Regions from separate parts of the Homo sapiens genome. Here region 1 is linked to region 2. Evidence: fine-mapped expression QTL. A gene starts in region 2. The other region holds a variant in brackets. All regions are shown on one strand. Distances are from middle to middle. Region 1 overlaps CASS4 (Cas scaffold protein family member 4). Region 2 holds the start of CASS4 (Cas scaffold protein family member 4).

Region 1 (5,379 bases), 43 kb after region 2:
TATCAGGTTCCAGTTCTGACAGCAGAGCTAGCATCGTTTCCTCGTGCTCCACCACATCCACCGACGACTCCTCCAGCTCTTCCTCGGAGGAGTCAGCAAAGGAGCTCTCCTTGGACCTGGATGTGGCCAAGGAGACAGTGATGGCTCTGCAGCACAAGGTGGTCAGCTCTGTCGCTGGCCTGATGCTCTTTGTCAGCAGGAAGTGGAGATTCCGAGACTATCTGGAGGCCAACATTGATGCAATCCACAGGTCCACTGATCACATAGAAGAATCTGTAAGAGAATTTCTGGATTTTGCCCGAGGAGTCCATGGGACTGCCTGTAACCTCACTGACAGTAACCTTCAGAACAGAATTCGGGACCAGATGCAGACCATCTCCAACTCCTACCGCATCCTGCTTGAAACAAAGGAAAGCTTGGATAATCGCAATTGGCCTCTGGAAGTTCTTGTGACTGACAGTGTCCAGAACAGCCCAGATGACCTTGAGAGGTTTGTCATGGTGGCACGGATGCTTCCAGAAGACATCAAGAGGTTTGCCTCCATTGTCATTGCCAATGGAAGGCTCCTTTTTAAGCGGAACTGTGAAAAGGAAGAGACTGTGCAGTTGACCCCAAATGCAGAATTTAAGTGTGAAAAATACATCCAGCCTCCCCAAAGAGAAACTGAATCACACCAAAAGAGTACCCCTTCCACTAAGCAAAGGGAAGATGAACACTCTTCTGAACTATTAAAGAAAAATAGGGCAAATATCTGTGGACAGGTGAGTTCAGAGTTCCAAGTGATCGAAAAAGGGGCTTCAATTGTTACCTGGAGTAGTGGCTACTAAGATGCTGAGACTCTTTCCATAGTGTATAGGCTTTGGGGAGACACTGGTTCCATTTTCTAGAAAATAAAATTTATGAAAGTAAAATTCTTGATGAAATCTTATTAACAAGTCAGATAAAGATAGGTCAGCATAGGCAGATAGGTCAGTTGATTTGGATTTCTTCCGAAAACTTTTGGCGTTCAAGTTTACCATATTAGAATTAAAAGGGATTTTTAAATTTCTTAAAAATTTATTATTTGAGTAGATTTTTAAAACCTCACCACCAAGTCTCCTTGCATTTTTGAAAGTTATAAATTTAGTCATTCTCAGTGTGTTTCTTAGCAACGAAAGAGGAAGTAGAAACATTCTTTCAAATTGCCCATGGTCTGATCAGCCCCCAGACTTCAGCTACTCTTAGAAATACTTTTCTGAGGCTGGGCCTGGTGGCTTATGCCTGTAATTCCAACGCTTTGGGAGGCCAACGCAGGAGGATCCCTTGAGGCAGGAGTTTGAGACCAGGCTGGGCAACATAGTGAGACCCCAGCTGTACAAAATTTATTTTTAAATATCCAGGTGTAGTGGCTCATGCACTTGGGAGTCTGAGTGGGGGTATCCCTTGAGACCAGGAGTTTGGGGTTGCAGAGAGCTATGATGGTGCCACTGCACTCCAGCCTTGGTGACAGAGCAAGAGCTAATCTCTAAAAAAAAGAAAAGAAAAAAAAGAGTTGGGATATAGTGGCTCACTCCTGTAAACCCAGCACTTTGGGAGGCCAAGGCGAGCAGATCACTTGAAGTCAGGAGTTTGAGACCAGCCTGGCCAACATGATGAAACCCCATCTCTACTAAAAATACAAAAATTAGCTGGGCATGGTGGTGTGCGCCTGTAATTCCAGCTACTCAGGAGGCTGAGGCAGGAGAATCACTTGAACCCAGGAGGCAGAGGTTGCAGTGAGCTGAGATTGCATCACTGCACTCCATCCTGGACCACAGAGCAAGACTCTGTCTCAAGAACAACAACAACAAAAAAACAAAAGACAGAAAGAAATACTTTTCTGGATGAGTTCAGACATTATAGAGCGAGATGCTTCAGTTCAGGGATTGTGAGCCTTAAGAGGCCCAGAAGTCACTTGGGGGCTGTGTCAAGGAGATAATTTGCTACTTTCAGCCCCGACCTTTGTGTTCTGCTGAAATGCCTGGTGGTGTAGGAGCTTTAACATGTTCTAGAAATTTGGATGTTTAAAATTTACATACACATATATATAACTTTAAACAAACCATGTGGGTCATTATATCAGGCCATGTTGATAGGCAAAATTCAGCCTTTGGGTGGCCAAAGTCTCCTTTGGTTGAGAAAAGGAATCAGTAGGCAGAACCATCAACAGAAAATATGAGAAAGAATGCTCAAGTCTAAAGTGAACTTAAACAGTTCCACTGTAGTGTAAAACACCACTCAATTTGGTAAGTTGAAGGGATTTTATTTTTCAGACATTGCCTAACTTAGAAGAGAAAGATAAACCTATCTTGGAATAAAGGTTAGATGAAAACAAAGACTTAGGAACCATGGTAAGCTATAGCACTCACTCTCTAAAGCTTCTGATTCATACGCTCTATTGCTAGATTCGTCTCATCATGCTACGGATAGCTCAACATTACAGCCATGACCCACATGGGCGAGAGTTCGTTTTTGTGATTCTTTGTCCTTTATTTTAGCAAGAGAGTCCTGGAGATCACTGAGTCTAATGAACGAACCCCAGGGAATGAAAGTGAAGCATTAACCATTACTGAAATGACTGTAGGGGCTCTGCAAGGTTGTTGTGGGTGGTACTGACAGGGCTAAATAGGACTGACTC[C/A]GTTCCTCTTTGACATTCTGATTTAATGTTTCTGATTACAACAGCAAATCTTGATTTGGGGCTTGTATATCTTCAACACCTCTTTTACACTTGATGTTCTTCCTTTTTTAAAAAAAAAAAAGTCAAAGATGTTATCGTTGTGCTTATTTTTATTGGTTTCCTTCTATTTGTGGTCAATGACAGTAGTTTTCCATTTACCATTTTTCACAGTTTCCTTTAAATTAATGTAAGTAAAAACAATGGGTCCATTTAAAGGAAAGGAATGAAGCCAGTAGAAGTTAAGAGGAAGGTGGAAAGAGTATAACTTGTAAAGGTTGTAAAGGTTGTCTCTGAATAACTGAGCTTGGGAAACTTACCTAGGTTATAGGGCAGATGGGGTAGAGGGTGGAAGAAAAGGATGTCCAATGATAGGATAAGGTCATGTACCTTCTCAGAGGCAAACTAGGACAAGAATTCAGGCCTCCTGATGCTCAGCTCCCTGAACCCCAAACACTAGTCTTTGGGCCTGCCATATTGCTGACAGTTATGCTATTTTGTTCAACATTAAGTAGGCCTTAGACTAGTGGTTCTCACATTTGAGTGTATCACAATCACCTATGATCTTTGTTAAAACTCACATGGCTGGCCGGGCATGGTGGCTCACGCCTGTAATCCCAGCACTTTGGGAGGCCGAGGCGGGTGGATCGCCTGAGGTCAGGAGTTTGAGACCAGCCTGACCAACATGGTGAAACCCCGTTTCTACTAAAAATACAAAAAATTAGCTGGGCATGATAGCGGGCACCTGTAATCCCAGCTACTCGGGAGGCTGAGGCAGGAGAATTGCTTGAACCCGGAAAGCAGAGGTTGCGGTGAGCTGAGATCGCACCACTGCACTCCAGCCTGGGCAACAAGAACAAGACTCTGTCTCAAGAAAACAAACAAACAAAAACAAACAAACTTGCATGGCTGGGCCCCGCTCTCAGAATTTTTGATCTAGTAGGTCTGGGGTGCAGCATAATAATGTGCATTTCTAGCAAGTTTGCAGGTGACGTTGATGCTTCTGGTCCAAGGACCTCACTTGGAAAGCCCCCGCTTTAGACTGACAGCACTTCTCAGTGGAGGCCCGGGGCACCGTTGGCCACCGGGTGGACAGTTCTCCATTGCGTGGTGAACCGTTCAGCATCCCAGAACCCCTGCCCGCTCACTGCCTATAGAAGTCCCTAGTCAATGCGATAACCAAAACTATCTCCACACATTTCCAGCACCCCATGTTAAGAATCTTAGTACATTTTTCACCTCCCTACGGTTAATATTTTCACTTAAGATGCTCATAATCTGATGCCTACCTCATTACTTCTCGTTATTTCTAAACTCTTCTTTTTTTTTTTGAGACGAAGTCTTGCTCTGTCACCCAGGTGGGAGTGCAGTGGCGTGATCTCAGCTCATTGCAATCTCCGCCTCACAGGTTCGGGCGATTCTCCTGCCTCAGCCTCCTGAGTAGCTGGGACTACAGGCGCCTGCCACCACACCCGGCTAATTTTTTGTATTTTTGGCAGAGACAGGGAGTCACCATGTTGGCAAGGCACATCTCAAATTCCTGACCTCAAGTGACCCTCCTGCCTCAGCCTCCCAAAGTGCTGGGATTACAGGTGTGAGTCACCGTGCCCAGCTCCCTTTTTTATTTTATTTTTTTGAGACAGTGTTTTGCTCTGTTGCTGAGGCTAGAGTGCAGTGGTGAGATCATGGCTCACTGCAGCCTCCACCACCCAGGTTCAATCGATTCTCCCACCTCAGCCTCCCAAGTAGCTGGGACTACAGGCCCGCACCGCCATACCTGGCTAATTTTTGTTTTGTTTTGTTTTTGGTAGAGACAGAGTTTCGTATGTTGCCAAGGCTAGTCTCAAACTCCTAGGGTTAAGCGATCCTCCTGCCTCGGCCTCCCAAAGTGCTGGGATTACAGGTGTGGGTCACTGCACTCAACCTGCTTCATTCTTATACTCCCTGCTTCCAAGAGTCCATGTGAACTGACATTTCAATCTTTCCTTCACTTTCTATGACAAAGACAATCATTGTTTTCATTTTCCAAATATGCAATTCTAATAATGAAGGTGCTTCTTCGAAGTATGCCTTCCTCTTCCTTGTCTAACTTCCCCTCCAACCCTACTAGGAGACATAACCCCCTTCTGAAAAAATCAGTTTTATGCCCTATCTGTCTGAATGCTTCCGGGCTATGAATTTTGAGATAATAGGTAAATGCGAGCGTGTGAAATTTAATGGAAAGAAAGCAAGTTTCAGACCTAGAGCTCCAGATCTCTCATGTGCTAATGGAATAGCCGGAGGCAGCCTTTTCTCTTCTCTGAGCTTCACCTTTCAATTGTTACCTGGAGTTGTGGCCACTAAGTTAGGTACTGAAAATCTTTGAGAGTATGTAGGATTTGGGAGAAGTTGGTTCCATTTTCCAGAAAATAAAATTCATGAATGTAAAATTTTGATGAAACCTTATTAGCAAATATGATAAATATTTTAATATTAAGGCAAAAAATAAAATAAATAATATTAAGGCAGATAGGTCAGGGTATTTAGTTGCTTCTGGAAATGTTGAGAGTTCTGATATATCTCTGATACTGAAATCAGAGGATTTTTGGCTTTTTAAATGTTTTTAAATCTGTTCTTTGAGAAAATTTTAAATCTCATCAAGTTTTTGTGCATTTTTAAAAGTTACAAATTTAGCTGGGTGCAGTGGC
Region 2 (5,379 bases):
GTGAATTGGTCAGACTCACTTGTCTCAGAAAAGAAAATTCGGTCCAAACTACTGTTCTTGATAGCACATTTGCCAAGAGCATTAAGATTACCTCACTAGAGTCCTTCTGACGTAGTTCCCTTGAACTCCAGCTGTTTCAGCCTTCAGACAACCGGATATTATGCAAGCACCCAGTTTCCTAGACTAATAGTTCTTGCAATGTTTGTCCACATTAAAGGCTCATTTGCCTTAAAATACTAATGGATTGCAGCAAAATGTCTAAGGCAGTTTCTCACACCTTTCATTCAGAAAAACCATAGAGGGCTCAAATAACAGACCGAGAGGTCAAGTTCCTTATTCACAAAATATCAAACTAGGTATCTATGTAGGAGCTAGTTGATATAATTTCAGGGCCAAAGCCTATTACTTTTGTGTCTTACTTTTCTAGTTGAGGTTGTTTTCCCTAGAAAAAACAACTTGTGAATTATAGCATTCTGATCTGTATTATGAGCTTAAGGGCAGGCTCTTCAGTATAGGGAAGAATCACTGCCGGGAGTCTGCCAAGTTGATGGAAACCATCTGAACTTGAGTTACTGTGGAGTCTTTTCTAAGAGACTTGAATTCAGTTTCTGGGTCTGTTACTTTACTCTGTGACCTTGGGCAAGTTTATCCATCCTTCCTTTTCATTACAGAGAATTTCAGACATAAAAGTCAACAATACAGCAGAAACAGTGGTTTCCAGGGGCTGGGGGAAGAACAAGTAACTGCTAATGGGGTAAATGTCCAGGAATTGAAAGAGGATTACTTTTTGAAATGGTGGTTGCACAACTCTGAATGTACTAAAAACCACTGAATTGTATACTTCAAAAAGGTGCATTGGCCAGGTGCGGTGGCTCACACCTATAATCCCAGCACTTTGGGAGGCTAAGGCAGGTGAATGACGAGGTCAGGAGATCAAGACCATCCTGGCCAACATGGTGAAACCCTGTCTCTACTAAAATACAAAAAAATTAGCCGGGCATGGTGGCACGCACCTATAATCCCAGCTACTTGGGAGGCTGAGGCAGGAGAATCTCTTGAAACCTGGAGGTGGAGGTTGCAGTGAGCCGAGATTACACCACTGCACTCCAGCCTGGTGACAGAGCAAGACTCCGTCTCAAAAAAAATAAATAAATAAAGGTGAATTTTATGGTACCTGAATTATATCTTAATATAATATTAATATATTATTATTAATATAATTTATATCTTAATATCTCTATGGATCTCCTCCTTGAACCAAACTGTTCATTGCGTGGGGTCATTGTTCCCTCCCTGTTATCTGCTATCGCCTGCAGCATGCCAATTACTTGGCCCTGAAGTTAATTTCTAACAATGATAACATTTAAAAATGTGGACTGTCTCAGCCAGAAATCAGTCAGCTACTTCAATGGGTAAATACATCCTGGTGCCCAGACTTGTGGGGACGACACATGGGACAACCAGAGGACAAGACGCTAAGTGCTATCTGTTGAACTTGCCTCAGAGGTGTGGTAAAAGAAAAGAAAATTTAAAAATAAAAAATTAAAAAATGCTGTCTGACAAGAAGATAGCGGTAAGCTATCCCCCACAGCTGGTTGGGGATAGAACTTGAGCCTGGCTTGGAAGAATGGGCACCATTTTGTCTAAATAAAAATGCAGGCCGGGGCCAGGCGTTGTGGCTCACGCCTGTAATCCCAGCATTTTGAGAGGCTGAGGTGGGTGGATCACTTGAGGTCAGGAGTTTGAGACCAGCCTGGCCAACATGGTGAAGTCCTGTCTCTACTGAAAATACAAAAATTAGCCAGGCGTGGTGGCGGGTGCCTGTAATCCCAGCTGCTCTGGAGGCTGAGGCAGGAGAATCACTTGAACCCGGGAGGTGGAGGTTGCAGTGAGCCGAGATTGCGCCACTGCGCTCCCACCTGAGTGACAGAGAAAGACTCCGTCTCAAAAAAAAAAAAAAATGCAGACTTATTTTGCTCAGTGTCTGCTATGCTGTAGGTCCTCTCTAGAGATTGGATCTGAATTTAGGAAAAGTAAAAAGAGTTGGCAAGTGATGATAAACTGCATGAGCTAGCAGGGGTTTCAAGTACAACACACACGATAAGTTTATTTGATTTAAGAGAGAGAATACAGGTGCGGGGCTCAGCATAGCCCTCAGTGCAGAGCCAGTACCCAGAAGATGTTATTCATTAGGTACCATGAGCAAAGACCAGGAGATGAGCATGGGGTTCCGAGCAGGGTGAATGCACAACTGACAGGGTGGGTAGAGTGGAGACTGTGTCCTTTAAGGCAGCCTGTTTGACTGCTTTTATCCTGGCTGTCATAAGGCAAGTTTTAGGGAGCAGGAAGGAAGAAATGCTGACCGCTATCAGAAATTTGGCCTAGTGGCCTCTCATCAGGGAAATGAGCTTGGTCTGTTCGGTTGGAGTTGTTCCACAGAGTTCAAAGGACAAGAATGCTGTGTGTTCATACACTGAGCTCTTCGAAGTAGGAACTTCGCCCTATAAAGCAGAAGAGTGGTGTTTTTTTCTTCTTCTTCTTCTTTTGTGGTTTCACATAGCAAATGAGTGACAGTCTCTACTTACAGACAAAGTGAGACGTCAGGCATTGAGACGTGAGTGTGGCTTGTATTTCTGGTCCTCCCCTGCTTCACTGCTTTCATTTTACTCTTATCGTGCTTTCCAGAAAGTTTGCCTGCTGGGAGAGTCTTTTTGATCGTTTCCCATGTGTTGTCAGATAGCTCCATAGAATTCAGTTTCTGAGAACCAGCCAGAAGCATGCAGTGACATTGCACAATCTGCCTCTGAAGCTGGAGATACTAGCTGCAGAGCTCAGGGGAGCTGCTCCACATCACCGACATGAAGGGAACAGGCATCATGGACTGTGCGCCCAAGGTGAGTGATGTGGGGCTGTTTGAATGGGCTCTGGCGGGGAGCAAGCTGTGATGATTAAGGGTGTTGACCAGCTTTAGTTGTGACTTTCTAATAAAGGTTGAATACCAGTGACGTGTGAGTTGGAGATGGGAAAGTTTAACATAAGTTTAAGTGTGGGAAATAGATGTGTTGTAAAGCTCCTTACCAGTTTGCATCCAAGATGGGTGAAAATGACTTTGTAGTAGAAATCAGCTTACTTGGTTGACAGCGCCGTCCATCATTTTGCGTCCAGCAAACTCCTGAAGCAAGATGCGAGTCTGCCTCAGCCCCCGCTAATTCCTTCTTTCTCTGGACCCCAAAGACACTCAGTGCCACTCTAACTGTCCTATTTGGTTTCTGTGCTCACCTCCCAACAGCAGAGCCCAGACCCTTGCCTGCAGCCTCCCGTGCTGAGCCCACAGTGGGCACTTACATGTTATTTTCATGTTAACTTGTGCATTATGTGAGCAAAGCTGGAGCTTTCAGACAGACTTCATGCCTGTCATGAATCAAAAAAGATTCACTATTTAGAAAGGTGAAAGAAGCCAGGCACGGTGGTACATACCTGTACTCCAGCTACCGGAGAGGCTGAGGTGAGAAGATTAATTCAGCCCAGAAGTTTGAGTCCAGCCTGGGCAACATAGCGAGACCCCATCTTAAAAAAAAAAAAAAGAAAAGAAAAGTTAAAATGGCTACCATATTAAAAAAAAATTTACCCAGACATAAAGAAAGTGAAGCTCAAGGTTGTGTTTTCATCTTGCTATGCCCTTTTTAAATTTTAAGTAGAACAGGAAAAAAGAAATGAAACAAGCAGTAAATGGGGAGCTTGCTTATAAAAATCAATGCTTATTTTTCATTATAATAAAAGTGACTAGTGTGGCTGTCTGCGGTGGCTCACACCTGTAATCCCAGCACTTTGGGAGGCCAAGGCAGGTGGATCACTTGAGGCCAGGAGTTTGAGACCAGCCTGATCAACATGAAAAAACCCCATATCTACCAAAAATACAACAATTAGCTGAGCGTGGTGGCGCATGCCCGTGATCCCAGCTACTCGGGAGGCTGAGGCACAAGAATCGCTTGAGCCTGGGAGGCAGAGGTTGCAGTGAGCTGAGATTATACCACTGCATTCCGGCCTGGGTGACAGAGCAAGACTCTGTCTCAAAAAAAAAAAAAAAAAAAAAAAAAAAGTCACTAGTGGAATTTGTGACTGAGTAACCCATGACAGTCTCTCTTGTATAGATTATATGTAAATATCTTAGCTACCCTAGAATTTTGTCCCCAACTACTTACTTTGAAAAATTTCAAACCATTGGAAAAATATGGGAAGCGTGGGGGTTATTCAGTAAATCCCTGCATATCCTTCACCTAGATCATTGGTTTCTGGTACTTTGTCATATTTGTGTGCATTTATTTGTGTATATTTAGACACTGGAACACACTTCATTTTTATTGTTGTTGTTAAACTCTTTGAAAATAAATGGCCAATACAATGACGCTCCACCCCTAAACTTCATTATGTGTCTCCTAAGAACAAGGACATTCATCTACAGAACGTAGAAGAATATCTACATATCATCATACCCAAGAACATTTCACATTTATTTAATAATGCCTTTCTACTATTCAGTCTAATTCACGTTGATTTAATAATGCCATTCTACTATTCAGTCCACATTCACATTTTCCAAAATTATCCTTTTTAGCTTTTCTGGCTGTTGTTGTTTGTGTGTGTGTTTGTCTTTCTGATCCAGGTGGTGTTTGTCAATTCTCAGTTCTTAATCTAGAACAATCTACTACCTTTTTCTCTTTCATAACATTGACCTTTTTTCTAAACAGCCTAGATTTTTTATGATTTAGACTTCTTTTTATGTACTGCTTATTCTGCCTAAATAATTTATGTAGCGCTTTACAATTGGGTGGGGTTTTGTTATTTAAAAAAAATATTTTTAGCAATGGGGGTATCACTCTGTTGTCCAAGCTGGACTCAAATTCCTGAACTCAGGTGATTCTTCTGCCTCAGCCTCCCAAGTACAGGATTACAGGTGCACACCACCGAGCCCCACTGCAATTTGTAAATAACATGCATGTTTGCATAGAACATATAATTGATATTCCCAGCATCCCCATGAAATTCTGCTATTAATATTATACAGATAGGCCGGGAGCGGTGGCTCATGCCTGTAATCCCACCACTTTCAGAGGCTGAAGCGTGTGGATCACCTGAGGTCAGGGGATTAGCCTGGCCAAAATGGTGAAACCCCATCTCTAGTAAAAATACAAAAAAATTAGCTGGGCATAGTGGTGCACGTCTGTATTCCCAGCTACTCGGGAGGCTGAGGCAGGAGAATTGCTTTATATATATATATAAATAGTAGCCAACCCTTACCGATTGTCTACATGTGAGGCCCTGTGCTGAGTGCTCTACTTGCATTTTCTCACTATTACATCCTCACAACATCCTCATGAA

Evidence for each region. PIP is the estimated chance that this variant, and not a neighbour inherited with it, causes the effect.
Region 1: its variant is the best candidate, but not a certain one, in a credible set for the expression of CASS4 in T cells (TOPMed, PIP 0.72).

The regions. Positions count from the first base shown.
Region 1 is chr20:56,452,369-56,457,747 of GRCh38, forward strand. It overlaps CASS4 (Cas scaffold protein family member 4), which reads left to right. Exons shown (of 6, transcript NM_020356.4): 5 at 1-761. Among named protein-coding and RNA genes, the nearest start is that of RTF2, 14 kb to the right of the region's middle. The variant C/A (reference allele first, on the strand shown) is at 2,657.
Region 2 is chr20:56,409,601-56,414,979 of GRCh38, forward strand. CASS4 (Cas scaffold protein family member 4) reads left to right here and starts at 2,660. Exons shown (of 6, transcript NM_020356.4): 1 at 2,660-2,894. The coding sequence starts at 2,859.